Linked DNA regions of Homo sapiens: region 1 is linked to region 2. The links come from fine-mapping of genetic effects on gene expression. A gene starts in region 2. The other region holds a variant in brackets. All regions are shown on one strand. Distances are from middle to middle.

Region 1 (16,332 bases), 990 kb before region 2:
TTGTCTCAGCTCAAAATCTCCTTAAGCTGATAAGCAACTTCAGCGAAGTCTCAGGATACAAAATCAATGTACCAAAATCACAAGCATTCTTATACACCAATAACAGACAAACAGAGAGCCAAATCATGAGTGAACTCCCATTCACAATTGCTTCAAAGAGAATAAAATACCTAGGAATCCAACTTACAAGGGACGTGAAGTACCTCTTCAAGGAGAACTACAAACCACTGCTCAGTGAAATAAAAGAGGATATAAACAAATGGAAGAACATTCCATGCTCATGGGTAGGAAGAATCAATATCGTGAAAATGGCCATACTGCCTAAAGTAATTTATAGATTCAATGCCATCCCCATCAAGCTACCAATGACTTTCTTCACAGAATTGGAAAAAACTACTTTAAAGTTCATATGGAACCAAAAAAGAGCCCGCATCGCCAAGGCAATCCTAAGCCAAAAGAACAAAGCTGGAGGCATCACGCTACCTGACTTCAAACTATACTACAAGGCTACAGTAACCAAAACAGCATGGTACTGGTACCAAAACAGAGATATAGATCAATGGAACAGAACAGAGCCCTCAGAAATAACGCCTCATATCTACAACTATCTGATCTTTGACAAACCTGAGAAAAACAAGCAATGGGGAAAGGATTCCCTATTTAATAAATGGTGCTGGGAAAACTGGCTAGCCATTTGTAGAAAGCTGAAACCGGATCCCTTCCTTACACCTTATACAAAAATTAATTCAAGATGGATTAAAGACTTAACATGTTAGACCTAAAACCATAAAAATCCTAGAAGAAAACCTAGGCAATACTATCCAGGACATAGGCATGGGCAAGGACTTCATGTCTAAAACACCAAAAGCAATGGCAACAAAAGACAAAATTGACAAATGGGATCTAATTAAACTAAAGAGCTTCTGCACAGCAAAAGAAACTACCATCAGAGTGAACAGGCAACCTGCAAAATGGGAGAAAATTTTCGCAACCTACTCATCTGACAAAGGGCTAATATCCAGAATCTACAATGAACTCAAACAATTCACAAGAAAAAAACAAACAACCCCATCAAAAAGTGGGCAAAGGATATGAACAGACACTTCTCAAAAGAAGACATTTATGCAGCCAAAAAATACATGAAAAAATGCTCATCATCACTGGCCATCAGAGAAATACAAATCAAAACCACAATGAGATACCATCTCACACCAGTTAGAATGGCCATCATTAAAAAGTCAGGAAACAACAGGTGCTGGAGAGGATGTGGAGAAATAGGAACACTTTTACACTGTTGGTGGGACTGTAAACTAGTTTAACCATTGTGGAAGTCAGTGTGGCGATTCCTCAGGGATCTAGAACTAGAAATACCATTTGACCCAGCCATCCCATTACTGGGTATATACCCAAAGGATTATAAATCATGCTACTATAAAGACACATGCACACGTATGTTTATTGCAGCACTATTCACAATAGCAAAGACTATTGTCTTTTGCTATTTGGAACCAACCCAAATGTCTAACAATGATAGACTGGATTAAGAAAATGTGGCACATATACACCATGGAATACTATGCAGCCATAAAAAATGATGAGTTCATGTCCTTTGTAGGGACATGGATGAAGCTGGAAATCATCATTCTCAGTAAACTATCACAAGGACAAAAAACCAAACGCCGCATATTCTCACTCATAAGTGGGAATTGAACAATGAGAACACATGGACACAGGAAGGGGAACATCACACTCCGGGGACTCTTGTGGGGTGGGGGAAGGGGGGAGAGAGAGCATTAGGAGATATACCTAATGCTAAATGACGAGTTAATGGGTGCAGCACACCAACATGGCACATGTATGCGTATGTAACAAACCTGCACATTGTGCGCATGTACCCTAAAACTTAAAGTATAATAAAAAAAAAAAACCTAGATGACGGGTTGAGAGGTGCAGCAAACCACCATGGCACATGTATAGCTATGTAAGAAACCTGCATGTTCTTCACATGTATCCCAGATCTTAAAATAAATAAAAAATAAAAATAAATAAATAAAAATAAAAATTATATTAAAAAAGAAGTCACATAGCTTTATTTCCATACCCCATGGGTTGAAGCAGTCACAGCCCATTCAGATTCCAGGGAAAGGGACACAGGCCACATCTCTTGATGAAAAGAACATGAAAGAATGTGCAGTTATGTTTTAAAAACATCCCAGTAGAGTTCACGAACATGAGTTTTTACAGCAGACACTACATTTCCCTGCCAGTTTACCTGCCTTGGGATGGTGGAGGTCTCTGAAGTTGGCAGTCGTTTCCTGCAGGATTCTAAGTTGGATGGCAGCAGCTCTCCAGCTCTGAGGCAACGAAACTGAAAGCTAGTGGAGAGTTGCCTGAATTTTGCCTTCTCAGGTCTTTCCATAAGTTCTGTGAACACTCAATTTCCTGTATCAAATTCCTTCTTCTTGAAAATGCTTAGAGTGATACCTGTTTTTTCTACTGGAGTCTGACTGATTCAAGCTCCAAAGTCTGCCCTCCTAACTGCCTCTCGCGTTGTTCTAAACCTTTCTGGTGCTCCTGGCCTGCTCCTTTGCAACCCACACACACTCACACATCCAGCATACCCTAAGAAGATGACACTGCCTCTTAGTGCTCACAAAAGGAGTGCAAGTTATATGAACCTCAACTATCCTTTCTATCCAACTGGAACTGTATCTGTCTGTTTTTCCCCCTTCTGCTCCGTCTTAGAAGAAAAGTTCATCAATACTTTTGGGAAAAAGGTAAACTTTTAAACACGATGCATGGCACCCTTCATTTATCTTTTCAACCTGATTTTCTGCCATCTTTTTATATGTGCCCATGTTAATTATGGTAGACTAACTGCTTTACCAAATAGACTCATAAAATTGGTGGAATTATTGCTGCAACAGAAAGACCCAAAGGTCTACAATGGCCTAAACCCTGTAAAAGTTTATTTCTTGCTCAAATAACAATTATAGGCAAGCAAATAATCAGTGGCATATGCCCTTCTCTATGTAGGGACTTAAACTAATAGAGAGACAACCATTTCCTTCCCTCCCTCCCTCCCTCTCTCTCTCTCTTTCTTTCTTTCTTTTTTTTTTTTTTTTTTTTTTTGATGGAGTCTTGCTCTGTCACCCAGGCTGGAGTGCAGTGGCGCGATCTAGGCTCACTGCAACCTCCGCCTCCCGGGTTCAAGCGATTCTCCTGCCTCAGCCTCCTGAGCACCTGGGATTATAGGCGCCCACCACCACGCTCGACTAATTTTTGTATTTTTAGTAGAGACAGGGTTTCGCCACGTTGGCCAGGCTGGTCTCAAAGTCCTAACCTCAGGTGATCAGCCCGCCTTGGCTTCCCAAAGTGCTGGGATTACAGGCGTGAGCCACTGCGCCTAGCCTGAGACAACCATTTTCAACATTTGCTTTCCAAGGTCACCCTTTCCAGACATCCAGAAGAGAATGTAAACTAAAAATAAAATCCTAAGCCCCCCAACCAACTGAACAGACCCCCTCTTGGCCAAGAAGACCTCAAGAAAAACTTAAAAACTGAATTCCTGGCCATCACAAGAAGGGAAGGTCCAATATGCTTTGTTATCCTCCCTCCCTTTTGGAGTTTAGGCACAACTGAACAGCATTAGTGTTAAAATAGAGATCGTAAAGCTAACAAAATGGACTTATTGTCACAATAAGATGCCAAATTACAAATAGGACCTAACACGACACAAGAAGGGTTGAGTCACACATTCTTATAATTCACTGTAACCCAGTGTACTGGAAAACAATATCTTAATATGAAATATTCCTTTTTTGCTGCCTCCGAATTTTTAGACAAAGCTTTATTTCTTTAACCAATTGTAAATTAAACAGTCTCTGAATTTACTTATACCCTGTAAGCACCTGCTTCAAGATATCCCACCTTTTCAGGCTGAATCAGTGTAAATACCTTCCATGTGACTGATTTATATCTTTGCCTGTAACGCCTGCCTCCCTAAAATGTGTAAAACTGTACTGTAATCCTACTACCAAGGGTGCACTTTCTCAGGACCTCTTGAAACTGTGTTCCCCAGGCCATGGTCACTCATATTGACTCAGAATAACATCTTTAAAATATTTTAGCCAGGTGTGGTGGCTAACACTCATAATCCCAGCACTTTGGGAGACCATGGCTAGAGGTTAGCTTGAGGCCAGGAGTTTAATGCCCAGCCTGAAGAACATAGCAAGATCCTATCTCTACAAAAAAAAAAAAAAAATTAGCTGGGTATGGTAGCACATACCTGCAGTCCTAGCTGCTCAGGAGGCTGAAGTGGGAGGATCGCTTGAGCCTGGAGTTTGAGGCTGCAGTGAGCTATGATTATGATCATTCCACTGCACTCCAGCCTGGGTAACGGAGCAAGACCTTGTTTAAGGAAAAGAAGAAAAGAAAAAGAAAGAAAGAAAAGAAAAGAAAGAGAGAGAGAAAGAAAGAAAGAGAGAGAGAGAAAGGTAGAAAGAAAGAAAGAAAGAGAAAGAAAGAAAGAAAAAAAGAAAGAAAAAGAAAAGAAAAAGAAGGAAAGAAAGAAAAGAAAGAAAGAAAGAAAAAATTTTTTATGGAGTTTAGTTTCTCCATTAACGGGGGAAGCATACAGAGGGTATATGTGAGAGGCTTTTATGGGTTAGCCCTGGACATGGTACACATCACTTCTGCTCCCATTCCACTAGCTAGAATTCAGTCACAAGGCTACATCTAGCTGCAAGGGAGGCTGGGAAACGTCACCTAACTGTGTGCCCAGGAAGAAGAGAAAATGAGTTTTGGTGAATGACCAGCTAGCAGTGTGTGCCATTGTGCCTTAAACCTTGGCATGCTTATTTAATTTTCCTATAGTTCAGCTTTGTCATTTCAAAGTTGAGGATCATCGTGGCACCTCCTTCACAGGGCTATTGTAAGGATTAATTACATTAGTACTGTGAAGACCTTAGAACATTGCCTGGCTTTTTGTAAGCATCCCATAAAAGTTATCTACTATTGTTATTATTCTTGTAATCCTTAGGGACTCTGCTTTGATACTACTTCCTTACATGAAATCTTTCTTCTCCCTTTCCCCTCTGGCCCATTCTCTCTAGCACCATCATATTGTATTGTAGCTGTCTGTTTTCTGGTTGGTCCCTCCCCTAAATGCTTCTTGAGGATAAGGATTATGTTTAGCTACATTTTAAGTAACTAACATAGTCTCTGGCATATGATAGGTACTCACTAAATATTTGTTGAGGGAGTAAAGGAGAAAGTGATAAAGGTGAGAAGGAAAGCCACAAAGTGGATCAGTATCTTGTCATGGGGAGATCTGTGAAAGGACGGTTTGATAAATTGTCCCTTCATGGATTGTAGTCACCATCTTCCAGGTCCCAGAGGGTCACTTGGTACTGAAGTCTTATCAGCCTAGGGACCAAGGCTGCCTGCCCTTCATGCCCTGTGTGAGACACCGCTTCTGCACTGCCTCACGTCCTCTCAACCTACCTTTTCTCCAGTCCCTGCTGCAGCACCCAGCACCCAGAGAAGTGAATCTACTTTCCCTCACCTTGTAACTGAGTCTTTCAACTTTGAATGCATTTTAAAACTTTTTTCCTCTCTTTCTAGTCTTAAGATGTAACCTCGAAACTGAGTGTAGAAACTCTCTTTTCCTTAGTCTTAAAATATACCTTGAAATGTACTTTGAAACTCTGCTTCCCTCTCTTTCCCACCAGACTCTCCCTTGCACCATGGACACGTATCTAACTGTATACTTGTTAATAAATTCCAGGGGCTGATTTTACACAACAGCCAGGCAAGGAGACCCAGCTGCAGAATTCTCCCCTACTTGGAGATTACCTCATGACAGACATCTATAAACTGACTGCAACTGAGATGGCACCAGCCAGCACTCCAAGTGGACAACAACTCAAAATAACCCTTGGAAGAAGACATGCAGGCCTGTATCTTGTGTTACTCTGGCATGGTTCTCATACTAAGTATCCCCTTTTTATTTTTTATTTATTTTTAACATATTTTTTGAAACAGAGTCTCTCTCTGTTGCTCAGGCTGGAGTGCAGTGGTGTGAACATGGCTCACTGCAGCCTCAACTCCCAGGCTCAAGCAGTCCTCCCAACTCTTAGCCTCCAGAGTAGCTGGGACTACAGGTGTGCACCACCACATCTGGCTAATTTTTTTTGTATCTTTTGTAGAGATGGGTTTTCACTATGTTGCCCAGGCTAGTTTCAAACTCCTCGGTTCAAGCAATCGGACAGCCTCGGCCTCACAAAGTGCTGGGATTACAGGCATGAGCCACTGCGCCTGGCCAAGTCTCCCCCTTTAAAATCCCTTCCTTCAGTCTAACACTTGAAATGGTCTTTTGGAGGCACAAGCCTGGCCATTTCCCAATTGCTAGCATTTGAATAAAGTTGCTTTCCTTTTACTCGCTTCTCATATTTTGGCTCTCAAGTCATGAGCAGCCAGACTTGCATTCAGTCACAACGTGGCTGCCCTGCATCTCATTCTGCCCTGGGGTTGCTCTTGCTCAACTTCCTTGGACATTGTTAGAAATGTATTTTGACTGTCACATATGCAAGTATGCAAGTGCAAGGGAGTTGGCATCTCATGGGGCAATGTAACCACTGCAGGACATGAACTAGTTGATAAATATTCGTCTCTTCTGACTCTTGAGCAGATGATTCTGAAAGGGTGATGAACTCATCCTGGCTTTCCACGGATCTGAGTTTTCTCTGAGTTAGCACTGGAAATCCCATGTTGCTGTTGGTTACCTTAATTCTGAAATGCATTATGCAGGACTCCTTAGGGGGTCCCAGTGAGATCAAGTTCCAGTTTCCCACAGCTTAATAACACAGATTGTTTTGCCTTTTCCTGCATTTCTGGGATTACTTCCCAATATATACTGCCTTCACACAAGCTTGTGTCTT[C/T]GGCTCTGTTTTCTATGGGGAATCTAGCTGGTCTTTGAATTGGGCAATGCTTAGCTTATCTGTGCAGTGATGAGTGTTTCCAACTTTAGGAAACTTAAAAAGACAGAGGCAAGTGAAATAAGTCAGGGCCCCAAACAGCCAAATTATCACTTTCCTGACGTTGTTACAAAATTAGTCTGGAAGGTATGGCACTGTTCAAAGACAGTGTAATGAAATATTTATTATAAGGTTTAATTGCTTGAACAGCCAGATATAGAAAGGACTGCAGACAGATAGTCAGGAGACTTAACTTCTGGTCCCACTTTTAGTATTTAAAATCCTATGTGACCTTTGACACGCTTCTCCTTGGGCCTCAGTTTCTTCATCTCCAAATTCTTGGCTGCTACTCTGCTAAGATCAAGTGTACAAAATTAGGAGGTTAGGCTAGATTTTGCTTTTACCAGTTGTTCTATTGCAGCAGGTGCAGTTATACATGATGGGCAAAGGCTTGTGGGGTGTCAGGGGCCTTGTCCCTTCCTAGCGCCACTAGGGTTAATAGGCCTGGTGGCCTGTTTCATGTCCATTTCACTAGTTGAGCACATATTGAAGAAAGATTTTATATATGGGTCATAGTGGACCATGAAGAACTCCCAACTTATTTCCCTGACAACATTCTTTTTTTTCCTTTGAGACAGCCTTGCTTTGTTGCCCAGGCTGTAGTGCAGTGGCATGATTTCGGCTCACTGCAACCTCCGCCTCCCTGGTTCAAACAGTTCTCCTGCTTCAGCCTCCCAAGTAGCTGGGACTACAGGCATGTGCCACCATGCCTGGCTATTTTTTTTTTTGTATTTTAGTAGAGATGGGGTTTCACCATGTTGACCAGGCTGGTCTCGAACTCCTGACCTCAAGCGATCCACCCACCTCCGCCTCCCAGAGTGCTGAGATTACAGGCATGAACCACTGCACCCAGACCCCTGACAAGATTCTCGAGATTTAACAATCTCAAATCTTCTTTCCGCAGTGCCAACTAGACAAGATATCAGGGCCAAAAATATTTGGCTCTGAGATGTAAGAAAGGTCTTTCTAATTACTGTAGAACTTGAGGTCATGATCATCACAGCCAGTGGTGTGCTGCTCCTACCTGCTTGTAAAAGCCAGTTGCTAAATATTCAGGAATGTTTCAAGCCAAACAACCACTGGTAGCTTGAAATCAGTCATGGGGAGAGTATTGACACCACAGAAGTTGACAGATGCTACAAATCCATGTTCTCTCCACATCCACCCCTCCCTGAGCCAGTTTACCAGCAATTCCCCGCATCCAGCTCTTAACACTGGAAGTTTTTATCCAGGACTATGGCTAAATTAAATATGTGTGTCTTAAAAAGAATTTTTTTCCCTGCTTTTTGGTTTGTGGATACAAAGAGCTGAATCATTAAAACTTGTTTTTCTCTCCACCTCAACAGTGGCTTTCTTTATAGATTCTATGAATCTGAAAGATACAAGTTCCACCAGAGGTCTTGGTAGGGTTCCACAGCCCCAAGCTCTGCAGGTTCTGACAAAGGATAGGCTGGGCCCTGCCAGGAAAACTCACAGAACCACATCAAGGTGTTTGTGCTGCTGCTTTAAGAGTTTGTCCTCAAGACAAATAAGAGTTTGCCTATTTGGGGGCTTTGGAAATTTTTTTTTAGGATTTTGGAAGCCTGTTCTGTTACTTGCTAGTTGTGTTACTGGACAAGTTAGTTAACCTTGCTGATCCTGGGAAGTAATCTCAGGAAAGCAGGGAAAGGCAAAACAGCGTGTGTTATTAAGCTGTGGGAAACTGGGACTTGATGCCCCTGGGACTCTCTAAGCAGTCCTGCAAATTGCATTTCGGAATTAGGATAACCAACAGCAACACGGGATTTCCATGCTAAACCAGGGAAAACTCAGGTCCCTGGAAAGCCAGGATGAGTTCGTCACCCATTCAGAATCATCTGCCTAAGAGTCAGAAGAGGGGAACATTTATCCACTAGTTCATGCCCTGTAGTGGTTAAGTTGCCCCATGAGATGCCAACTCCCTTGCACTTGCATACTTGTATATGTTCAAGTATGGTGCACATGCTTGAGACAGGATCTCGCTCTGTTGCCCAGGCTGGAGTGCTCTGGCTTATCACGGCTCACTGCAGCCTCAACCACCCGGGCTCAAGTGATCCTTCCACCTCAGCCTCCTGAGTAGCTGGGACCACAGGCATGCATCACCATGCCTGGCTAACTTAAAAAATTTTTTTGTAGAGATGGAGTCTCACTATGTTGCCCAGCCTGGCCTCAAACTCCTGAACTCAAATGATTCTCCTACGTTGGCCTCCCAAAGTGCTGGGATTGCAGGAATAAGCCACTGTGCCCAGCCAACCTTGCTGAGCTTCACTTATATGTGGAATGGATGAGACCACTTCAGAGGGTTTATGGGTTTGTCATGAAGCTCAGGGAGCTTAAGGCTCAAGACACCTCACTTGTACAAGCTTCTCACAGGAGGGCTTTAGGTACACTGTATTTGTAATTTTCTAGTCTAAAGACCCCTGCCCTCTTCCCAAAATGTGTCATCTTCAGAGCTGCACAAACCTTGGATCTGATCCTGCTTGTGAGGATGAATCACGTGTAAAACACTTATTCTTGAGTCTGGCCCATTGTAAAAGCCTCAGAAATAGTCCTTGCTGTTGTCAGTGGAAGTACTTTCCCTCCATTATCACATATCCACATATTCTTTCTCCCACTGCCTAAATGTCAATGCCCATCCACGTCTGCTCAGAGTTTGCTTCTTTTCCTATAATGTCAGTTTCTTGCCAATCACTCCCCACTTGCCATTTTGCCAGTCTTATTCCATAAGGTGCATCTGCACTTCCTCACTGCGTCCTTTTTCATAATGGGAAAACAATGTCCAGCGATTATATTCTTCACAGAAGTGATGTGACAGCAAAGAGAGATCATAAATGAATCGCCTGAAGCTTGTTGGTGTGAGGGGGAAACCAAAGTCATATTAATACTTAACAAAACAAGCAACAGGACAGGAAAACAAAAGGTAATTAAGGCAAAGCTGTGATGTTTTGCCAGTTGTTAACATAAGAGGCCAATTGTCAGCTGACTGTGATGTAAAGACGCTTCCTTTAAGAGCATGTGTAATATGTATCTCAGAATCATCAAAGGGCTCTAAGTCACCCTAATAATGGGTCTGTACCACAAACAGAGAGAATGCAAACCACATTTTGTCTTAAAAGACACAGCAAATTGCACTGCAGCTGTAACAAGAATCTCAGAGTCATTTGCATTAACTGGGGATGAGTGAAGGGGCTAAGTGGAGTGTCTGTGTGCAACATGGCACTTCTTCCTTGACCTGTGAGAAAGGAACTTGACAGCCAGGCTCAGTGGCTCATGCCTGTAATCCCAGCACTCTGGGAGGCTGAGGCAGGTGGATCACGAGGTCAAGAGTTCAAGATCAGCCTGGCCAACACAGTGAAACCCCGTTTCTACTAAAAGTAAAAGAAAAAAAAATTAGCCGGGCATGGTGGCGGACGCCTGTAGTTCCAGCTACTTGGGAGGCTGAGGCAGGAGAATGGCATGAACCCGGGAGGCAGAGGTTGCAGCGAGCTGAGATCGTGCCACTGCACTCCAGCCTGGGAGACACAGCGAAACTCTGTCTCAAAAAACAAAAAAGGAAAGAAAAGAAAGGAACTTGACTTATATACACTTAGGTGCAGCCATCATTGAGGGCTTGTTGTGCAAGGTGCTATGGATGGTGATGAGTAAAACCAGGTGTCCTTTCTATTATGCTGTGCTGGAAGCTTCTTTGGCAAGTGAAGGGAGTGTGGCCTTTGGGATCAGATGAATCTGGTGGAATCCTGGCTCTGTGCTCAGCATATGATTTAGACATTTATGTAACCTTCTTGAGCCTCAAGTTTCCTCATCTGTAAAATGGTAACAATACTACCCATCTTACAGAATCACAGAGAGGATTAAATGGGAAAAAAAAGACAAAGTGTCTGAAATATAGCAAGTTCTTAATAAATATTAACTTTCTTACCCCCTTCTGGAGGCATAGAATCTTAGTGCAATCTTGGTACTCTCAGAAACTGTTTATGTAGCTCATCTGAATCTTATTTTTTTAGTAGTTGAAACATTTTGTCTTAATACAGAAGCAATACATATTTGTAGCACAAGAATTAGAATATTTATTTATATATATATTTATTTATTTTTGAGACCAAGTCTCACTCTGTTGCACAGGCTGGAGTTCAGTGGTGCAATCTCAGCTCACTGCAACCTCCACCTCCTGGGTTCAAGGGATTCTCCTGCCTCAGCCTCCTGAATAGCTGAGATTACAGGCGTGCACCACCATGCCCGGCTAATTTTGTATATTTTTAATAGAGCCAGGGTTTCACCATGTTGGCCAGGCTGGTCTTGAACTCCTGACCTCAAGTGATCCACCCGCCTCAGCCTCCCAAAGTGCTGGGATTACAGGGGTGAGCCACCGCGCCCGGCAAGAATTAGAATATTTAGATAAGAAAAAAATTCAAAATTACAAATAATTCTAATACGTTAACACCCTTGGGTGTATCCTTCCAGGACACTTTTATGCCTGTTAATACATACGTATTATTAAAAATATAATTATACAATACATATTATTTTATAACCTGCTTTGTTTTCATACGTTACGTCATTATGGGAAATCTTTGAAAAAATCTCTCCCATGAAAAGGCCAGCTAACAATTATGGGAAGTATGGGAAGTGGTTTCGATTAACATACTGTGACAACTATCTATTATTAAGAAAGTCACGACAAAATTTTGGTGCCCCTTTCCCAGATGAAGGCCACATAGCTGCTATAAGGGACAAGGACCAGTAATATCTTCAAATCCTCTTTTTGAAGTGCCTTCATTTAAAAATCATGCATTTTCTTTTAAGAGTTTTATAAAATCTAGGAGGAAACTTATCCCTTTGTGTTTAGAACAAGGCAAAAGAAATTTCTGATTGGATATTGTTATGGGCCCATGACTTCTGTTGCAGAGAAGGTAATAGAAAAAGGTAAAATACTTCTACGCTCTATAATTCACCTTGCTGGAAAAAAAACAACTGGATTGGCTTGACAGGGGCTTAGACGGGTGACCAGGTTACTGTTTGGTTGGTTGAGAGACGGAAGCAGTACAGAATGACAAAAGTGTGTGGTGGGCCACCGGCCACTGGTTCATCATAGCAGGACCTCAAACCAATGTCTAGTCCATGAATGTTTATATATGGGTTGGTATATGAAGGTGGATATTTGCAAACAAATGCTTAGTTTTAGTGTCAGGATTTTCTTCCTAATTAATGAAAAGAGACTGTATGTTTTCAAGTTCTGTAGGCCTAACTAGAAAGGAAAGAGTTCAGGATTTCAGATTGTGCTACTTTCACAAGATGTAGGTATATCTTTACCAAAACACACATGGCTATGCACATGTTCAAGTATCTTGTTATAAGAAGGGTGTGGTGTAAGTGGAAAAATTGCTTCTGTTATTCTTGTGAGGCAGTGTAACTTAGTGGTTAGAAGCACTGATTGAAGAGCAAGACTACCTAGTCTTGAATTCAGCTTCACCAACTGTTAGCTGGGCAATCTTGGGCAAGTTAGTTACTCTTTCTGAGTCTCTATTTTTCTTGACCTGTAAGAAAGGAAATTGATGGCCAGGAGTGGTGGCTCATGCCTGTAATCCCAGCACTTTGGGAGGTTTAGGCAGGCGGATCACAAGTTCAAGATCAGCCTGGCCAACACAGTGAAACCCCATCTCTACTGAAAGTAAAAGTAAAAAACAAAAAAAAACAAAAAAAGAAAAAACAAATTAGCTGGGCATGATGGTGGGTGCTGGGAGGCTGAGGCAGGAGAATGGCGTGAACCCGGGAGGCAGAGGTTGCAGTGAGCCGAGATCGTGCCACTGTCTTCTAGCTTTGAGACAGCGAAACTCTGTCTCAAAAAAAAAAAAAAAGAAAAAGAAAAGAAAGGAACATGACTTATGTATATTTAGGTGCAGCCATGATTGAGGGCTTGTTGTGCAAGCTGCTATGGATGGTCATGAGTAAAACTAGGTCTCCTTACTATTATGCTGTGCTGGAAGCTTCCTTATGGGTATAATAATAGTTGCTCCTATTAATGAGTATATCCACCTCATAGGGTTGTTGAAGGATTTGAAAAATATTTTAGAAAGTAACAACTTTCAGCATTTAGAACAGTGCCTAGTATATAATAGGAAGTATGTGTTAGCTATTGCCATTTTATTAGAGTTTTAACAGGTCAGTCCAACAGAACTGGCAATTTCCTGAGTGATACTTTTTTTTTTTCCTGGGACAGAGTGTTGCTCTGTTGCCCAGGCTGGAGTGTAGTGGTGTGATCTTGGCTAACTGCAACTTCTTCCTCCTGGGTTCAAGCCATTCTCCTGCCTCAGCCTCCAGGGTAGCTGGAATTATGAGAACGCACCAACACGCCCAGCTAATTATTGTATTTTAGTAGAGACGGGGGTTTCACTGTGTTGTCCAGGCTGGTCTCCAACTCCTGACCTCAAGTGATCTGCCCACCTCAGCCTCCCACAGTGCTGGGATTACAGGCGTGAGCTACTTTTAATTCATTCATTACTCAAACAACACGGTATCCTGGATGTCTATATATGGTTAGGCACTATGCTAGGCTCTGGGCAACTGAAAAAAAAATGCCAATATTCTATATCTTTGAAAAGTAAAAACTGACTACTCGTGTCTTCTCAAGAAGCTTTGTGACTGAGGTTATGCAGGTCTTTTTATCTAGAGTAGGCTTCCTGGAAGGAGGACAAGACTAGCTCACCTGCAAAGAACTCAGTCACTTATCAGGAATGAATGAAGTGCAGAGCGTATTGGGATTCCCTAACACCAACTCTTCCTGAACATGCACCTTTGTCAAACCTGCCACTGTCAGAGCTGCCGACACAGGCAATGGATGGGGACATCAGGACAGGGCTTGGGGTGGGAGCCTGCAGTTCCTGGAATTTGCCCTGCTGACCTCACACTAGGTGATTTTATCCTACTTCCCAGAAACTTTCCCCCAGTTAGTCTAAAGTTGGGATGAAGCTACAAATTATTTGCTCTGAAAATTCTGAGTCTATTCTAGAGTTAATTTCCTGTACATGTTACATGGTTTGCATTATTAGAAGGGCCAAGGGGCCCCGGCAGTGCATTCCTTTTCATTTTCTGTAAAAGGGATCTGTGGGACTCTTTCATCTTCCATTAATGATGAGAATGTGGAAAGGGGAGGGTGGGGTAAGAGAACTAACAATTATTGAGCACTTACTCTGTGCCAGGTACTTTGTACATGTTCCTGGCACAGAGTCAGTGCTCAATAATTATCGGTTTTTGGGGGAACTGAAACGAAAATCTGAGAGGCCAGGGGCCATGTTTTTGTCAATACGTCTATTTTGGCAATGAGCACATTACCATGTATATTGTCAGTGGTCCATGTTGTTGAATGATATGATTATACACATGTTATGTGTGCATATCCACCACCTATCTATGTATCATCACTTGTCTATCACTTATTGAATCTTAGCTAAAGCTCATGCTATTTAAAATTACAATTGCCTTGGTCTCAGTTGAATACCATCCCATAATTTCTATGTGAAACAATTGATTTTGTGATTTCTATTTCATAATTGCAGAATTAACTAATTTATTATTCAAGTCCTTTGAACTTAAAGATGTTTTCAGTAGTGTGGATTGAATATATCTATGGGTTTGATGAAATTAACTTTTTTTTTTTTTATGAGACGGAGTTTCACTCTTGTTTCCCAGGCTGGAGTGCAGTGGCGCAATCTTGGCTCACTGCAACCTCTGCCTCCTGGGTTCGAGCAATTCTCCTGCCTCAGCCTCCTAAGTAGCTGGGATTACAGGCGCCCGCCACCATGCTCGGCTAATTTTTTGTATTTTTAGTAGAGACGGGATTTCATCATGTTGGCCAGGCTGGTCTCGAAGTCCCGACCTCAGGTGATCCCCCTACCTCGGCCTCCCAAAGTGCAGGGATTACAGGCATAAGCCACTGTGCTCGGCCGAAAGTAACTTTTAATTGTGATAATTACATTGCCCTTATTTCCATTACGCATGAAACAGAACTCCTCTGTCTTCTTATGGTAAAATTTTGGCACTGAAGACCAGTTGAAGATGAAGGATGCATCTTGGTAAGTTGAAAGAGGAGAGAGAGTGGGGCCAGGGAAGCCACAGTGGGCAACAGATTGGCATCCCAGCTTTCACCCCTCTCTATCATTCTTAGGTATTTCAGGTCAGAATTAAGAGGAACTAATTGGAGATATCATCTTCTTGGAATTGTTTGTGCCTCATAACACTTTAAAAATGCATTGACGCAGTGATTTCTGAAGTTCAGTCATTTGTGTATTGCCTTCACGAATTTTGCTATACCTTTGAATCACCTGTACTCATACTGACTTGAGTTTTTAATCATCTCACTTTCTTAAAATTAAATACTTTTCTTTTTTGGGAAGAGGATCTCATATTATTACTTTTTAAAAAATCTCTTTTTCCACACGTTCTAGTTATATCATTACTATAAAATTGAAGACAGGCTTCACTTGTTAAAAACTGAATGTAACTATAAAATTCAATCCAAGAAAAACAAAGAAAATGTTAGACAAAATTTTAGCTAAGCCTTATTTTTCTTGGACTTGAAGCCTAAGTTTTGCTCCCTGTCAGAGGGTTGCTAAAAGACCAGCAGCAAACTGAGAGTTTACCTTGGAGGTAATCAGAAAGAAAAAATAATTTTAAGGGGAATAACTTTCTCCCCCATATAATTCGGTGTATTTTAATGCCTGGTTGAGCCACTGTAATACTATGGAAGATTATGTCATCTTCCGTAATACACATTATCTCACACATGGCAAAACACTTCATGAGAAGAGAAACTGACATCTCATGATTTTGACCTTCACCACATATACAAGTTTTTTTGTTAGAAATATCACTCACGAAAAATGGATGAAGTAGTCTTCCATGCAGAAGTTTGGACATTTCAATTTAATGTCTCTGGTAAAGATTTTCCAGTTAAAAGCACATTGACCACAATGTTTCGTCTTCTCTTTAACACTGAAAAGGGGAGGAACGGCCTTATTAGCAGTCAATACTATCAAAGTCAATGGAGGCAAGGGACCAATGGCCCATCATAGTCCTAATATCACTTACTGTTTTCGAAGGAGGACATCTTTCATAGTGGTATCTACCATCTCTTGGGGAGAAGAGCAGGAATGGATAGATTAACCTCTTCCAGACATCTGCTCACAGTCCCGATGCGGTTTCTGACTTAGAGGGTTTTTCTTAGAGATCTTCTCTGCTGTCCTCTGCAGCTGTCAGGGCATTCTCCAGATGGGGCCTGGTA
Region 2 (16,332 bases):
TAATCCAAGGGCTAAAAAAGAAATCACAAAGAAATTTTTAAAATATTTTGAAGAGAATGAAAATGAAAATGAAAATTTGTGGGTCATATCTAAAGCAGTACTTACAAAGAAATCTATAGCTGTAAATGTTTATATTAGGGAGTTTAAAAGTCCAAAATAATGGTCTAAGCTTCCACCTTAGGAAGCTAGAAAAAGAGAAAATTAAAATAAGTAGAAGAGGAGGAATCAATGAAAGAGACTGAATTTAATGTAATACTTTATTTAATAGAGAAATGAAAAAGAGGAAAAAAATCCAATGAAGTAAAAAAAAAGTTTTGAAAAGATCAATGAAATCAGTAAAACTCTAGCTATATTGATCAAGAAAATTTTAGCAAGGTGCAATGACTCATGCTTGTAATCCCAACACTCTGGGACACTAAAGCAGGAGGATCACTTGAGCCCAGGAGTTCAAGACCAGCCCGAGCAACATAAGGAGACCCTGTTTCTACAAAAACAAATAAAATAAAATGTGCAGGGCATAGTGGTGTGTGCTTATGGTCCCAGCTACTTGGGAGGCTGAGGTGGAAGTATTGCTTAAGCCTGGGAGATCAAGGCTGCAGTGAGCCATGATTGTGCCACTCTCCTCTGGCCTGCGTGACAAAGAGTGGGATCCTATTTCAAAAATAAAAATAAAAAGAAAGAAAATAAAAATTTTAAAAGACACAAATGACCAATAACAGAAATTCTACAGATTCTAATTCTAAAGCTTCTAAATGAATAGGGTATATCATCAAACATTTAAGGAAAAAAATCATACCAAGTCTACACAAACTCTCCCAGAAAATAGAAGAGGGGAGGATACTTTCCATTTCATGTTATGTAGTCAGCATTACCTTGACATCAAACCAAATAATGCAATGGCAATAAAATTGCAAACCAATGTCCCTCGTTAATATGTAAAAATCCTTAAGATATTAGAACATCACATCCAACCCCACGACCAAATGGGGTTCACTTCAGGAATGCAATGTTAATTCAACTTTTAAAAATGAATCCATGTAATTCACATTAACTGAATAATGAAAAAAAGCAAGATAATCTCAGTAGAGGCAGAAAAAAAACTGACAAAATTCAATACCAATTCATAATAAAAACTCTTAGGAAACTAAGAACAGGAAGGAACTTCCTCAACCTGATAAATAGCATCTTTGAATAATTACAGCTAACATTATATTTAAAGATAAAATACTAACCACTTTTCTCCCTAAGTTTCAGAACAAGGTAAGTATACCCACTTTTACCACTTCTATTCAATATTCCAGTAAAGGTCCTAACCAAGGCAATAAAGCAAGAAAATGAAATAAAAGGCATTCGGACTGCAAAGAAAGAATACAATTTATTCCCAAATGACACAACTGCATACACAGAACATCAGAAGGAATCAATCTACAAAATAGCTATCAGAATGAATACATGAGTTTGGCAATATAGTAGAATACAAGAACAACATATTTGAAAAGATTGTATTTCTAGGCTGGGCATAGTAATTCATGCCTGTAATCCCAGCACCTTGGGAGGCTGAAGTGGAAGGATTGCTTGAGTACAGGAGTTTGAGATCAGCCTGGGTAACATATCAAGACTCCAAAAAGTTTTTAAAAATTAGCCAGGAGCAGTAGCACATGTCTGCAGTCCCAGCTACTCAGTAGGCTGAGGTGGAAGGATCACTTGAACCTGGGAGGTTGAGGACGCAGTGAGCTGTGATCACACTAATGCACTCCAGCCTGGGTGACAGGGTGAGACCCTGTCTCAAAAAAAAGAAAAAAAAAAGAAATTGCATTTCTATGTATTTCTACTAGAAAATTTAAAATTTAAAAATACTGTTTCAAGGGTATGAAATACCTATGAATAAATTTAACAAGCTATGCAAGATCTATACAATGAAAACAAAATACTGCTAACAGAAACTGAAGAAAACCTAAATAAATGGAACGATATATACTGTGATCATGAATTGGAAGATTCAATATGGTTAATGTGTCAGTTATCCCCAATAATCTAGAAACTCAATGCAATTCAACCAGAATCCCAGCAGGCTTTCTGTAGAAAGTGACAAACTGATTCTAGAATATTACTGTGAGAAGGGATCCACAGGCTTTACTAAATTGTCAAAAGGGTCTATGGCACAAACCAAGGTTTTAAAGCCCTATCGCTCTCCAAATTGTCAACTTCCAGGTGTACTCTTTCCTAAAATTGATTTGCCTGAGAACAAGTCTATGTCCTGAAGATTTTCCTTAACCACTTCTTTGTTCACAATTTTTTCCCACTTGACTAAAACAAAGTATTTCTCTCAGCCATCCCAGTGTTACTGTAGGCCATTTTCCTAGGTGTAAAAAAATTTTGTGGGAGGAGGGGGATGCAATCTGTAGATTTAATTCTATGAGAAAGCCACTTAAGAGTAAAGCACAAGGAAGTTTGATAAGAAATACTAAAGGAGGCTGTACCTTGCTTCTTTCAGGACAGATGTTAATAACAACAAGAACCCACGCCTTATCTACCACAGAACTACAGTTAAGAAGATGGTTGTCACAGAGATATATAGGAACACATTTATTTCAATTGATAAACTCCAAGGTTTTGATAAAGTAAAGCACTATCACAATATACGACAATTTAGAAATTAGATCTTTTGCAACTATTTAAACTCTTGACAAAAAAACTCCAGCTGTGATCAACTTAAAAAATGTGCAAGAGGAGCACATGTTATTCAAAATTATTGGATACACAAGCAAAAATATTTGAAGACCACTGATCTCAGGTAGTTTGTATCCTGTTTTCTCTATTAACGAAATTATACTTATGTAAATATAACCCACTTTCTTCTATTAAAGATTTGAACTGTCTGTAAATGGAAATGGAGACTGACTTTCCCTTTTTAATTTAATGCTGCATTTTTGTAAGCAGCTAGAAAATGTTGCTACTGGCATTATGAAAACATTTACTGGCTATGCCAAGTTGTTCTCTATGAACATCTGCTGTTGATTTTGACGGGAAGGTGAAAGGATACAAAATTCTATTTAAAACCATACATATCTATTCCTCTAACGCTGCCTGACAAGCTATATATTAAATGCCGTGCATCTTGTTATACACTGAGAATACAGAGGTTCTTCTTTTTAGGGACTCCGTCCAATAGCAGACTCAGTCCTCCAAAGAGTTACAGCAATTAACTTGTGGTAAGAATGTACATGCTATGGAAATATTAAGATGGGCTCAAAACTATAAAGTAAGGGGGGAAGGAGTATTCCAGAAGGGATTATAATACCACGTGCCAAGATATGTAAGGGAGGAAGACTATGGTGTGGTCTGCAAACTACAGTTACATATGAAAACAAAGCATATTTTCAGAATTGATATTCAAATTTGAGATGCTATCCATCATCCAGAGTCAACACTGATGTACGTATGGCAAAGAACAGGCATGGAAATTCATTTGGTGGTTTAATATTTACTGAGTATCCACTATGTATCTGATACCATATGAGAAACTGGGAAGGAAGTAAATGAAAAATAAGCTATGAAAAATCTTACATCAAAGGGAGAAGACAGACAAGTAAAACCACCACAGCACTAGCCTACAGAGTGATAAAACGCTACAGAATATACATGCACAGTGTTATAGGAACAAAAAGAAGAGGAATAGAATGTTTCCCAAAAACAGTAATGCTAGAGGAGTAAACTGGATAGAGAATAGGAGAATTGTAGGAGTAAAATCACAAAGCAAAAACCAAGTTCAGTTAAAAGCTGAAGAAAAAGAAGAAAGTATGGCAAAGGAGGCTAAAAAGCCAGATCACCAAGGACATTGAGTAGTAAGAAATCAAGCTATGGAAGCCACAGAAGGGTTTCAGGCATCAGTAAGATGATCAATCACTCTATCAAGCAGAGTGAAAGATATACTAAAGGTGGAGGCTGAGAATATGGCAAGACTGAAGAGAACTTCAATATGCAATTCAGGGATATTTATAATTCAGAATATATAAAAGCAAGAAAATAAAGGAAATATGGTCAAGGAAGATAGAGAAGAGATGGTGGGTAAAGGAGGTATTTCAAAGGTGCTAGTTATACAGATATTTATTTTGTATTTACATGTTAAACTACGTTATATACTTTTATGTGTTATATTTCACATTTTAAACAAATTTTTAAAGGGAGAAGCGTTGCTGAATTACAAAAATAGCAGTGAGAAAGGAGAAGAAAGGAAAAATTAAGAAACAAGTTAAAACCAAGAGAAGAAAAGAACGAAACTAAGAATCCTACCCCACCCCCAATTTCACAGTCTAGGTGGAAGGTGAAGCCATTTACCAACGACATATAGAAGCCAGTTGTTTTATAGGGGAAGAACTCAACTTGGACATGTAGAATTTGAGCTGCCTGAATGACACTCAGATGGAGATATCTAATAGGTTTTTAGACATGCAGGCCAAAAACTTAGAAAAAACCGTCCAGACTGAAAGTAAAAATTGGTGCACGATGAGCCAGTATGGTAGACTATGGCCTTGAAAAATATCACCCAAGAATACCATGAAAATTACAGAAGGCCAAGGACAGAGTAATCTCCAAGGAGCCTGTAAAATAAGACCTGAACTTAAACGAGATTTTGAATTATTAGCATAGCCATTTGACATATAAGAAACCTAAGAGTCCAAATACCTTTTCTTAAAATGATAGCTTTTCATTTTTCCTTTGATTAATGAAGAAAAAAGCCTATATTTTCCAATGACAAAGTTATAAATGATGGAAATTCTTAGTCATGTAAGGCATTTCTCATTGTACACCATTTATTATAATTCACTTGAAATTCAATCATCTGCCCTTCCTAAATTTCAGCCAAAATAGGATTTGGGGTAGCTTCAGTATGATTCCAAGACTGTGTATCTCTCTACCATCTAGCTCAGCCATCACCTGGCTTTCAATAGAACCAGCATGTGAATCTGTTGTAATACTAGATTTTACGTGCACCTGGCAGAAAGTAGGATGAGTATTACAGCATCTGACAGCAGGTAGCTGAAAGGAACTGGCAATTCTTTCAGTCCTGCCTGCTCATGAATTCTAGATACAGCAAGAAATGTAACAGGTAAAATTATATTTATGCTTAACAAAGACTTCCTGAATTTTCAAATAACATGACTACAAACAGTCCTATACTTCCCCAAGAATATATTTTTACTTTTTTCCCCAGCTTCCCAAGCTTACAATCCCAAGAATAAAATATTATAAAGCAGAATGAGCTTCCATTTTTGTTGAAGTCACTGCAATGCAAATAAAAGGCTTACCGTAATTACATCTGGCAATGAAGTTACATTTAATAACTTTCAGTCTCATGGCACCTAGCAGAGACTAGACTTTCAAAAAGCACAAAATAATAGACACTGACTACAAAGAACAACAATATAAAACAAAGAAACTCAAAATAGTTTGCTTTATCCCTTAAAGGGGCACAAAGGTCTGAGATTTGTATGTAAATGCCTGAAAATAAGAGAATACCATTTATATCATCATTTATAGTTATTCAATGAATTTTTGTAATTCTAATTAAGAATTACATTCAAGAATTACATTCAGAAGACATGAAATACGGTTAAATACTTCACAAAATCTGGGGGAAAATACGTGTGCTTATACTCCCATATGCAGTACTTACCTGTTTGTATCTAAAGAAAGATGATCTTAAGATATATTCTCTCTCTCTTTTTTTTTTTTTTTTTTTTTTGCTGCTCTGCAAGGAGCAGGGCTAACTTTAAGGCCAGAGTTGGCCTTAAGATGTATTCTTGAAATATACATTTCTGCTTGTGGGAGCACTCAGAGATTACTAGAAGTTTTTTAAAAGAAAGTTTTCAAAAACTGGATAATGCTCTTCTTTGTTCTATACAGAAATCATGTTTAATCTTATACAGAACAAAGATTAAACCAGCTGAGTATAATCATTCTCTTTACAATTACAAAGAGTATCTAATTATCAGACATAGTTAAGCCAGAACAGATTACAGAAGACAAGCCTGATTTTAAAAACGAACATAAAAAACTGAAAAGACTTAGCAATGTACAGCCAAGTTAGTACACAAATTATTGGGTACCTACTAGATGAAAAGCACCATGCTAAATGCAGGGGGAGAAACAAGAAGTAAAACATTCAGTTTCTGTCACTGGTCACAAATTTTAAGACCACTGTACAATAAGATTTAAGATTTAAAAAGCAACATGAGGCCAGTGGCTCATGCCTGTAATCCTAGCACTTTGGGAGGCCAAGGCAGGAGGATCACTTGAGCTCAGGAGTTCGAGACCAGCCTGGGCAACATAGTGAGACCCTGTCTCTATGTAAATAAAAATATTAAAAAAAAAAAAAAAAAGAAAGCAACATGAAATTTCAGGCAACATACGCTTAAATATCAAATTAGTAATTTAAACAATAAGTAAGATCTGAGGAAAGATTACATCCAAGTTTTTTGAAGCTACTTCCAGCCCATGTATTTAGTGAACTATAGTTTTTACAACAAGAAGTTAATCAGATTCTTGAAATTATTGTAATTTTTTTTTAAAGCAGTAGCAGAGGGGTGACAGTTTCTCACTATTCAGGCCTTCCAGCTAGAGAAGAGGGACAAGGAATAACTGAGTAGGAAATTAGATTAAATGATCACTTCCTTAAAGTCTACAGTTCTTCCTTAATTTAAGAAAGTATAAAATCTCGGCCAGGCGCGGTGGCTCACGCCTTTAATCCCAGCACTTTGGGAAGCCGAGGCGGGTGGATCACGAGGGTCAGGAGATCGAGACCCTCCTGCCTAACACGGTGAAACGCCGTCTCTACTAAAAATACAAAAAATTAGCCAGGCCTGGTGGTGGGCGCCTGTAGTCCCAGCTACTCGGGAGGCTGAGGCAGGAGAATGGCGTGAACCTGGGAGGCGGAGCTTGCAGTGAGCCGAGATCGCGCCACGGCACTCCAGCCTGGGTGACAGAGTGACACTCCGTCTCACAAAAAAAAAAAAAAAGTATAAAATCTCAAATACAATGTATGAAAACAAACTCATAAAACACAAGTACTGTCTAAGACAGTGGTTTTCAAATTCTGGTGAACATCTAAATAACCTGGATAACTTCTTAAACCACATAGATGCCTAGGTAGTATCTCAAACCTTTGGAATCGGAACCTATAAAGGTGAAGTATATCTGTATCCTGAGAAAGCTCCGTAAGTGATTCTGATGAACAGCAAAGTGTTAAAATTAAGTTACATGGTTAAGTACACACTCTTCAGTGGTAAGGAAATCTGAGTTCAAATGCCAATTCTAATATTTACTAGAGCCATCACCAACTAACTACCCACCCTAACACTATTTCTAATCTACAAAAAGGGGAAAAGCTAGCTATACCTCAAGTGATTGTTATAAGGATTAACAGTGATGATAAGATAAAATGTTTAGTACAATTCTTGGCCCATTCAGTAAGCATTAAATGAATTCATTCATTTAATAAACATTCAGCACTTACACATCAGGAGATGAGGAACATCTAATTAATTTATTAAGTATTAATAAACATGACAACTCTTCAATGGTGTGGTAAGAACATATAATCAGGAGAATGTATTCTAATCAGGAAAGTCTTCCCTGAAGTGAGCTGAATGATGAATAGGCATAATTGGCTAAAAAAAGAAAGGAAGGGCATTTCCAAGCAGAGGAAGTAGCATAACCAAAGCCACATACTTGAAGCAGGAGAACAGAAAAGACAGGGTGACTAGGGGAGAAAGGGAATGTCAGAAAGCACAGTGGAGATGAGTTTGGAAAGGGGACCGACTATGCAGGGCTTGTAGGGCATGTTAATGTGTTCGATTTACTTAAAAATGGTGAGAAGCCACTGAAAGATTTTAAACACTAAGACAATGTTATTAGGTCTGCATTTTGAAAAAGTCACTAAGTCTTGTTTGGAAAACTACAGGAGACCACAGTAGATGCAAGCAGACCATAATCAGGAGGCTACGGAAGTAGTCAGGATGAGAGATGGTGGTGGCTTGGAACAGGACTACTGTTACAGACGAAGAGCAGACAAGAGTCAAGAGATATTCAAGAGGCAAAATCAACAGGACTTCATGAGAGGCTGAGTATGAAGCACGACAGAGGAATTGTCAAACTTCAACTTCTATACAAAGGAATGGATAGTGATGCTACCCACGGAGTTAAACACAGTAAGAGGAGCTATTTTTCTTCTTGGGGTGGGGGAAGGGAGGTATATCATGAATTTCAAACATGTGAATATGAGTAGTTATTCCCAGTAACAGGGTTGATCTGTCTAGAAAGTATTCCACAGTATAGAAGTACAATGTGCCTGTATTTATTTTACTGGGTATTTATGAATCTTAGAGACAAAATAGGTTTCTGCATGTGAGTAATGTAAATCTAAAGAGAATGAAGGCCCTTACCTTCCATTAGGTTCCCTTCCTTTACACAATCCCCCAAAAGCATTCTTTATGATTACAGTTTAATGTTGCCTCAAGAAGTAATTTATATACTCAGCTGATTTCATTTTTAAATATTTTAAAAATATTTGTGCTAAAGAATAAGACAGCAAACCAAACAACAACAAACCTGCAAAGTCCAAAAGGAATCTTCAAGCACCTGACTTTCAAGCCATCACCAGAACATAATGGGGTTTTACAGTGGCAGGCTGATTTGGAGCATTTTTGCTAAACTATTTATTTTTCAGAACGGAGATAGGCTACTTAGAAAACTCACTCATAGTATCCAATGTTTTTAGAAAGTGTCATCACAAATAATTCCTGAGTTTGACGTACTAAAAAATAGTTGACACCTTCCAATGAAGTCACTACAGGCATAGCGCTTTTAAGCAGCTTGTCTGGAGCCTCCTCGAGTGCCTTAGAGGGTGGATTTGATAATATGGCCTCCTTAATTACGGATCACAGGTATGTGCTCAAAGTCCAATAAGTTTTTGCAAGCTTTATCGGTCTAAACCCTCCTCCATCCGTATTCTCCCGTTTAGAAAAACAAGACTGCAGGAGTAACCGTGGGGTTTTTTCTCTTAACAAAACCCCTGCCCCACCCACCTCACACACAATAACCTTCCATTCCAGAACTAAAGCTACTGTCAGAGAAGGACGGCGGGCGGCAGGGCCCTGGCTGGTGACCCAGGCTACCGGATTCCGGACCTCAGAACTGAGGTGAACTCTCTCACCCGGTCCTAGAGTAGTGTCCAATGTCCCCGAAAGGTACTACGTTCTCCACCACCGAAACCCGAGCTCTCGAGCCGGCATGGGGGGCTCTCCCTCCGGCAGCTGACTTCGATCCCGGGTCTCCCGTCGCCTCAAGGCCTCTTTCGAGGACTCGGCCCTCTCGGATCCGCTCCCCGGAGCTCGCTGCTCGTCCAGCCCCGCTTTGCGCGGGCGCCGACCGCCGATCGCCCGGCCGGCCGCCGGCAGGCCCGTCACCAGGCAACACCCACCAGCCTGAGCGGCCCTGGGAGGCCTAACCCGGGCGCGAGTCCTCCATTCCCTCCTCGCCGGCTCCGGGAGCCCAGGCGAGAGAGCCGCCGGTGAGGGAGGTCGGTCGGTGCCGGCGGCCGGTCACTTACCTCTTCCTTCTTCCAGGAGGGGCGGTGCTGGGGCTCTTTCCCCCCGCCCCCCTAATAAACGCCTCCTGGCTGTTCCTGCTCTGCCTTCGTGCCTGGCCACTGACTCTGGCTTTACTCCATATCCTCCGCCGCCCCCGCGGCCGCAAACGTCGGAGCTAGAAGGAAAGGGGTGGGGAGGGGAGGGACCGGGGACGAAGAGTAAGGGAGGGGGAAAAAGACTAAAAGACCTGCCGGCCGGGGGCATGACGTCACTTCCTGCCGGTTCGGAAGAGGCGGAGCCAGTACTTCTCTCCGCCCCGGGTGTCAGGTGGGGCGGGGCTATGGTGCCAGGGGAGGAGCCAGCGCGCGAGCTTATGGCGGTTCTTTTGACTCCGAGGTTCCGTAGACTTGTCAGTCAGAACGAGCTTCCGGGCCCAGGGCTGAACGGGCCAAGTTCCAGGAACCGTAGAGATGGCTTCTGCCGGAAAAGGAGGACAGGTAGCCCTGTATATCCTAGCCAAATGTGCAGTGAAGGTGGAGGGGGCAGCTGAAGGGAGCAGGCGGCTGGGACTCTGCTCCTCATTGGTCCAGGGCCCCGCCCATTTCCTAGCCCCGCCCCCTTCCTGCCCTACCAGGCACTGGACTGGGGGACCCAGGACTGAGGCTTTTTAGGGGTTACTGTGGTGAAGTGCCCTTGGAGCGTGCAGGAAAGCGTTTTTTCTCAAACTTTAATATACATACGAATCCCTAGGATCTTGTGAAAGTGCAAATTCTGATTGAGGAGTAGGGTCTGATAATCTGCGTTTCTAATACATGTCCAGATGGCACCAATGCTGCTGGTCCCTAGGCTACACTTACAGCAACAAGGGGTTAATGTACTAGAGGGCAAATTCCTTGAGCTAGAGGAGTTATTTCTTTAATCTAGCCTACTTGTTTAATGAAGGTTAGAGAGGTAGACTGTCTATGGAAAACAGGCTGTACCGCTGTATTTTCCACCTACCCCGTCGAGTACCCTCCTGCCCACCTCCGCCCATCACTTTCTGGCCTCCCCTCCTCAGTCTCCGCTCTGCCCACAATGTCTGGGGATAAGATTTCTTGAGTGATTAGACGGGTAACTTCTGTTACAGAAGGAATTTGAGGGTGGTGGATTTTTATTTCTGTCATTTTATCGTAAACATATGTATAGTTGGGCATACTTTTGCGGTTATGCATAGTTGGAGAAGAGAGCTTAAGTTCTTGGATTCTACCCACTTCCCCCTGCAAATCTAGAAAAAACATTCTAGAAGTTCTAAGTTATTCCCTTATCATTCTTTAATTTTTTTAATTAATTTTAATTAAATTTAATTTTAATTAAAATTTTACTGGGGTACGGAAGAATGAAGAATGACTGCGAACTATAGGTTTCTTTGTGGAATGATGCAATGGTCTGAAATTAGATAATAGTGATGGCTGCACAACTTTGTGAATGTACTAGAAACACTGAATTGTACACTTTAAAAGGGTACATCCTCTTTCATCAGCCACCATTACAATCCTTCTTCCCCAAGGTTACTCGTTTGAAGTTTATTCTTCCAGATCTTTCTATTTATTTACATACATTTTTACATAGGTTGGGAATTCATTTTTACCTAAGTAGGATAATAATATACAAGTTGTTCTGCTCAGCTCATTTTTAAAAAATTTTTGTTTTGGGTTTTTCTTTTTCCCTACTTAATGAGATCCTTGCACACTATAAACATAGCTCTACTTCATTCTTTCTAATGGCTGGCTACTATTCTATAGTAAGGGTATACCATAATTTATTTAACTGTTTTTTTCAGGTAATAGACTGTTTTTTTTCCCTTGCCCAGGCTGGAGTGCAATGGCGTGATCTCGGCTCACCGCAACCTCCACCTCCTGGTTCTAGCAATTCTCCTGCCTCAGCTTCCCAAGTAGCTGGGATTACAGGCGTGCGACACCATGCCCAGCTAAATTTTTTTGTGTTGTATTTTTGGTAGAGATGGGGTTTCACTATGTTGGCCAGTGTGGTCTTGAACTCCTGACCTCCACCTGCCTCAGCCTCCCAAAGTGCTGGGATTACAGGCTTAAGCCACTGCGCCTGGCCAACTGTTTTTGTTTCTAATTGAGACAGGGTCTCACTCTGTTGCCCTGACTGGAGTGCAGTGGCAGGGTCACAGCTCACTGCAGCCTCGGCCTCCCTGGCTCAAGTGATCCTCCCACCTCAGCCTCCTGAGCAGCTGGGACTATAGGAGCACGCCACCATGCCCCACTAATTTTTTGTATTTTTTATAGAGTCTCCCTGTGTTGCCCAAGCTAGTCTTGAAATCCTGAGTTCATGCGATCCTTCTGCTTCAGCCTCCCAAAGTGCTGGGATTACAGGCATGAGCCACTGAACCTGGCCAGTAATAGACATTTTGATTGTTTTTAGGTTTTCATTATTTCTCAGCAATTTTTTTTTCTTTTTGCCCAGAGAAGTGGGATTTCTGTTATTTGGAGAGTAAGTTCAGCATGTGATAAGGCAATTTTTTTTCATTATGCAATATGTCCATGTAAAATAAGGCACATCTTTATCTAAACCCCTTAATCGGGAGCAACAGTGGAAGCACTTTCTAGAGCCCAATATCTCTACAATGTTTGGTAGTTTCACTTCATAATTTAGATAATTGGGTTATATTCAAGTATTCAGCTCAAGTGGGTATGTGACCCTCTTTCATTTTTCAGCAAACTTTTTTTTTTTTTGAGACAGAGTCTTGCTCTGTCACCAAGGCTGGAGTGCAGTGGCGCGATTTCAGCTCACTGCAACCTCCATCTCCTGGGTTGAAGAGATTCTCCTGCCTCAGCCTCCCGAGTAACTGGGATTACAGGCGCATGCCACCACGCTCGGCTAATTTTTGTATTTTTAGTAGAGGTGGAGTCTCGTCATGTTGGCCAGGCTGGTCTCAAACTCCTGACCTCAGGTGATCTGCCTGCCTCGGCTTCTGAAAATGCTGGGATTACAGGTATGAGCCACTGTGCCTGGCCTTAGCAAACTTTTTAAACAGCTGGTTTAAACAATTAAAAAAATTGATTATTTAGTTCTTTGCCTTGATCTCCCTAATGAAGAACTAACCATTGTTCAAAAGGGCAAAAAGAAAAAAGAAAAGGCAAAGAGTTTGGTGAAGCCACAACTCTGTAATAATCAATACTCAAGTGTATTTGCATTACTTTTAAATATGCCCTAAAATAACATTCTTGAAGATTCGGTATAACTAGTAGTTAACCATGTAATAAGGGTATATAAATTCATATAATAATGTATTTCACATCAGTAAAGCAAGTTCCCAGGTTTACTCTGTTTTTATTGGCAGACCCACATGGTGCAACTTAGTAAATATACTATAGTTTATGTAAGATGTGAGATGACACGTAAGAAGGACATTACCAGCAGATATGCCTTCAACAAGCATAAGGTTGTCAAAACTGAAAAATTTGCATATTTTTGTATAATCTAGATTTGTTAGAAATGCATATTTAATTTTTTTCAGGATGCTCTGGTCCTTTTCAAGCTACTCAGCTATGGGATGGTATTATTCACTCTCTTCAGGCCCAAGTGGAAATAAAAAGAAGGAGGCATCATTTACAGACATACAAAGACTGTTTCACTGGTTCTGATGCTGTCGATGTGGTCTTAAGTCATCTTATGCAAAACACGTGCCTAAGTAGCAATGACATCTCTTGTCTTAAAGGGGTTCATCTTTGCCAAGTTCTAATGAATCACAAAGTATTTGAACCAGTAGGAATGAAGAAGCTTTTCAAAAAAGAAAAGGAATTAGAATTTGAAGATTCCAACATTAGTCTCTACAGGTTTCTAGGCAATAAATCATCTTACGATTGTTGCAAAAGACAAAAGGATGCTGAGAATGAGTTCAATGAAACCTTGAGGTTAGTGTTACCTAAGATACTGTAATATATTTTATTTAGACCCTAGAAGAACTGTCTTTATTGAGCTAAACTCGAATGTGTACTTTTTTCAGAAGCCAATTAAAAAAAAAAATCCATGTGAAAATTAATCCACTTATGCATTTCCTCTAAAACTGGAATGATGCAATAGACTAGAATTAGATAATAGTGATGGCTGCACAACTTTGTGAATGTACTAGAAAACACTGAGTTATACACTTTAAAAGGGTGACTTTTGGCCAGGTAGGGTGGCCCACGCTGAGGCAAGACGGACAGATCACTTGAGATCAGGAGTTCGAAACCAGCCTGGCCATTATAGCAAAACCTCGTTTCTACTAAAAATACAAAAATTAGCGGGATGTGGTGGCAGGTGCCTGTATTCCTAGCTACTCAAGAGGCTGAGTGAGGCACAAGAATCGCTTGAGCTGGGGAGGTGGAGGTTGCAGTTAGCCAAGATTGTGCCACTGTACTCCAGCCAGGGCGACACAGCAAGAATCTGTCTCAAAAAAAAGTGAATTTTATGGGATGTGAATTATATCTCAGTAGTTTTTACTGTTTCCAATATAGCAGCATCTGTTGCTGTAACCAAAAATATATATTATTCCTTTTCCTTTACAACATTTTGTTTTCCTTAGAGCAAATACAGTTTTGTTTTCTGTTTTGCTTAGTTGTTGAAGACATTATCACATAAATTTTTCAGAGTTTATACCAGGAAAAACTATGTCTTCTAAGGAATGGATATGCTTTCTAATTTGAAAAATGACTTAGCCAGTGTACTAAAAGCCAAGGTTTTCTGGAAACTCAGAACAAAAATTTTCTATTCCATCATAACAACTATGTTAACCTTAGAATTAGCATATATGCTTTTCTTCTTTATTTAGAATTCTAATTTGTCCTCTTTTGGTGATAGTCTATTAAATGAATTATTTGCATCTTTTATTATAAGCTGCCTGAAATCGTTTTTGGAAATAGAGAATGTATGAATAAATTTTAATACATTAATTTAAATATATATTTGAAATTTTGGTTCTGTGTATAATGAAAAGAGCCACGTATTATTTTTTAACAGACCAGGATATGAAATGATTTCAAATCCTCTAGCACAGGAGATTGGTGAGGAAAGAATTGAGGAACTTATTCATACAATAAATGGGAATCCAGCTTTATGTCCAAATATCACAGTTCAGAAACCTTTTCTCCGGCTTTCAAAAGAAGGTAATTTGTTTTCATTATTTTTTCAGAACATGGTAAGGAAGAACTAACTTCTTTTTAACAGGTTCTTATAAGCAGTTTCAAGGTCACGGCAAAATAGAGCAGAAAGTACAGTTCCCACATACCCCTTGCTTCCACTCACACACAACCTTCCCCATTATCAACATCCTGCAACCAAGTGGTGCATTTGTGATAATCAATGAATCTACATTGATACATCATTTTCACCCAAAGCCCATAGTTTACATTAAGGCTCAGCCTTGGTGTTGTACATTCTATGGGTTTGTACAAATTTTTGATGACATATTATCTGTCATTATAGTATCATACAGAATAGTTTCAGTGCCCTAAAAATTCTCTGTGCTTTACCTACTCATTCCTCCCTTCTCTCTAACCTTAGGCAACCACTAATATTTTTACTGTTTCCAAGAACTGACGTTTTAAATGTGATTTAAGTAGTGTATTAGTGTGTTGACTCCCTCCTTCTCTTCCCTGTAGGAGTTTCCTTCTACACAGCAATTACATCAGATAAGACAGGTGAGGCAATATACATCTAATAACACTTAATTCATTTTTTACAATGACTGTGACCAGATTAACTGGAGGTGCTATAGTCTGCACTGCAAGAGAAAACATACGGACTCACCACAGTCCTTAGTATTTGTCCTGCAAGACCATCTTCTTAATGAGTGTATCCTTTGTCCATTGTGTAAACTCCTCCCAAACATCTTCCTACTCTTTCCCTTTCTCAGAACAAACTAGCTAAACTACCTGTTGCACCACTCCTCTTTACTATTTACTTCATCTACTTGTGTTTTTCTCCTTAAAATGCCACTAATGGCAGATAAAAGAGCACCATAGCCAGGGCAGTTAGGAGAGATACATACAAAATTCATTAATGGCCCTTTACTCCATTTGGTCAAACCATGACAGAAGCAAGACTAGCTATGACTTGCACACTGGAGGACTGTGATTTATCAACAATAGTTAACATTGGCATGATAAAGGAAATACAGGGTGCCCAAAGAAAGGGTGTAGAATTGAGAAGAAGAACTAAAAGAGAACTCTTTTTTTTTTTTTTTTTTTGAGACGGAGTCTCGCTCTGTTGCCCAGGCTGGAGTGCACTGTTGTGATCTTGGCTCACTCCAACCTCTGCCTCCCAGGTTCAAGTGATTCTCCTGCCTCAGCCTCCAGAGTAGCTGGGACTATAGGCGCCCGCCACCACACCCGGCTAATTTTTGTATTTTTTAGTAGACACGGGTTTCACCATGTTGGCCAGGTTGGTCTCGAACTCCTGACCTCAAGTGATCCACCCACCTTGGCCTCCCAAAGTGCTGGGATTACAGGCGTGAGCCTCCTTGGCTGGCCATTGAGACACAGTTTCACTCTTTCGCCCAGGCAGAAGTGCAGTGGTGTGATCTCAGCTCACTGTAAACTCTGCCTCCCAGGTTCAAGCAAGTCTTGTGCCTCAGCCTCCAGAGTAGTTGGAACTATAGGCGTGTGCCACCATGCCTGGCTAATTTTTTATTTATTTATTTATTTTTTGTATTATTAGTAGAGATGAGGTTTTGCCATATTGGCCAAGCTGGTCT

Which allele goes with the higher level. Alleles are on the strand shown, and positions count from the first base shown. SD is a standard deviation of normalised expression in the study named.
In carriers of allele T in region 1, the expression in platelets of the gene that starts at base 9,928 in region 2 tends to be lower than with C alone (large effect, 2.3 SD a copy in CEDAR).

Evidence for each region.
Region 1: its variant is fine-mapped to the expression of DEPDC4 in platelets (CEDAR, PIP 0.95).

What each region holds. Positions count from the first base shown.
Region 1 is chr12:101,246,679-101,263,010 of GRCh38, reverse strand. No RefSeq gene overlaps it. Among named protein-coding and RNA genes, the nearest start is that of UTP20, 25 kb to the left of the region's middle. The variant C/T (reference allele first, on the strand shown) is at 6,942.
Region 2 is chr12:100,260,675-100,277,006 of GRCh38, reverse strand. It overlaps DEPDC4 (DEP domain containing 4), which reads left to right and starts at 9,928. Exons shown (of 10, transcript NM_001364818.2): 1 at 9,928-10,087; 2 at 13,114-13,510; 3 at 14,598-14,743. The coding sequence starts at 9,931. SCYL2 (SCY1 like pseudokinase 2) reads right to left here and starts at 9,830. Exons shown (of 18, transcript NM_017988.6): 1 at 9,215-9,830. RefSeq lists enhancers at 9,196-9,255, 9,266-9,335, 10,006-10,085 and silencers at 9,406-9,485, 9,586-9,635.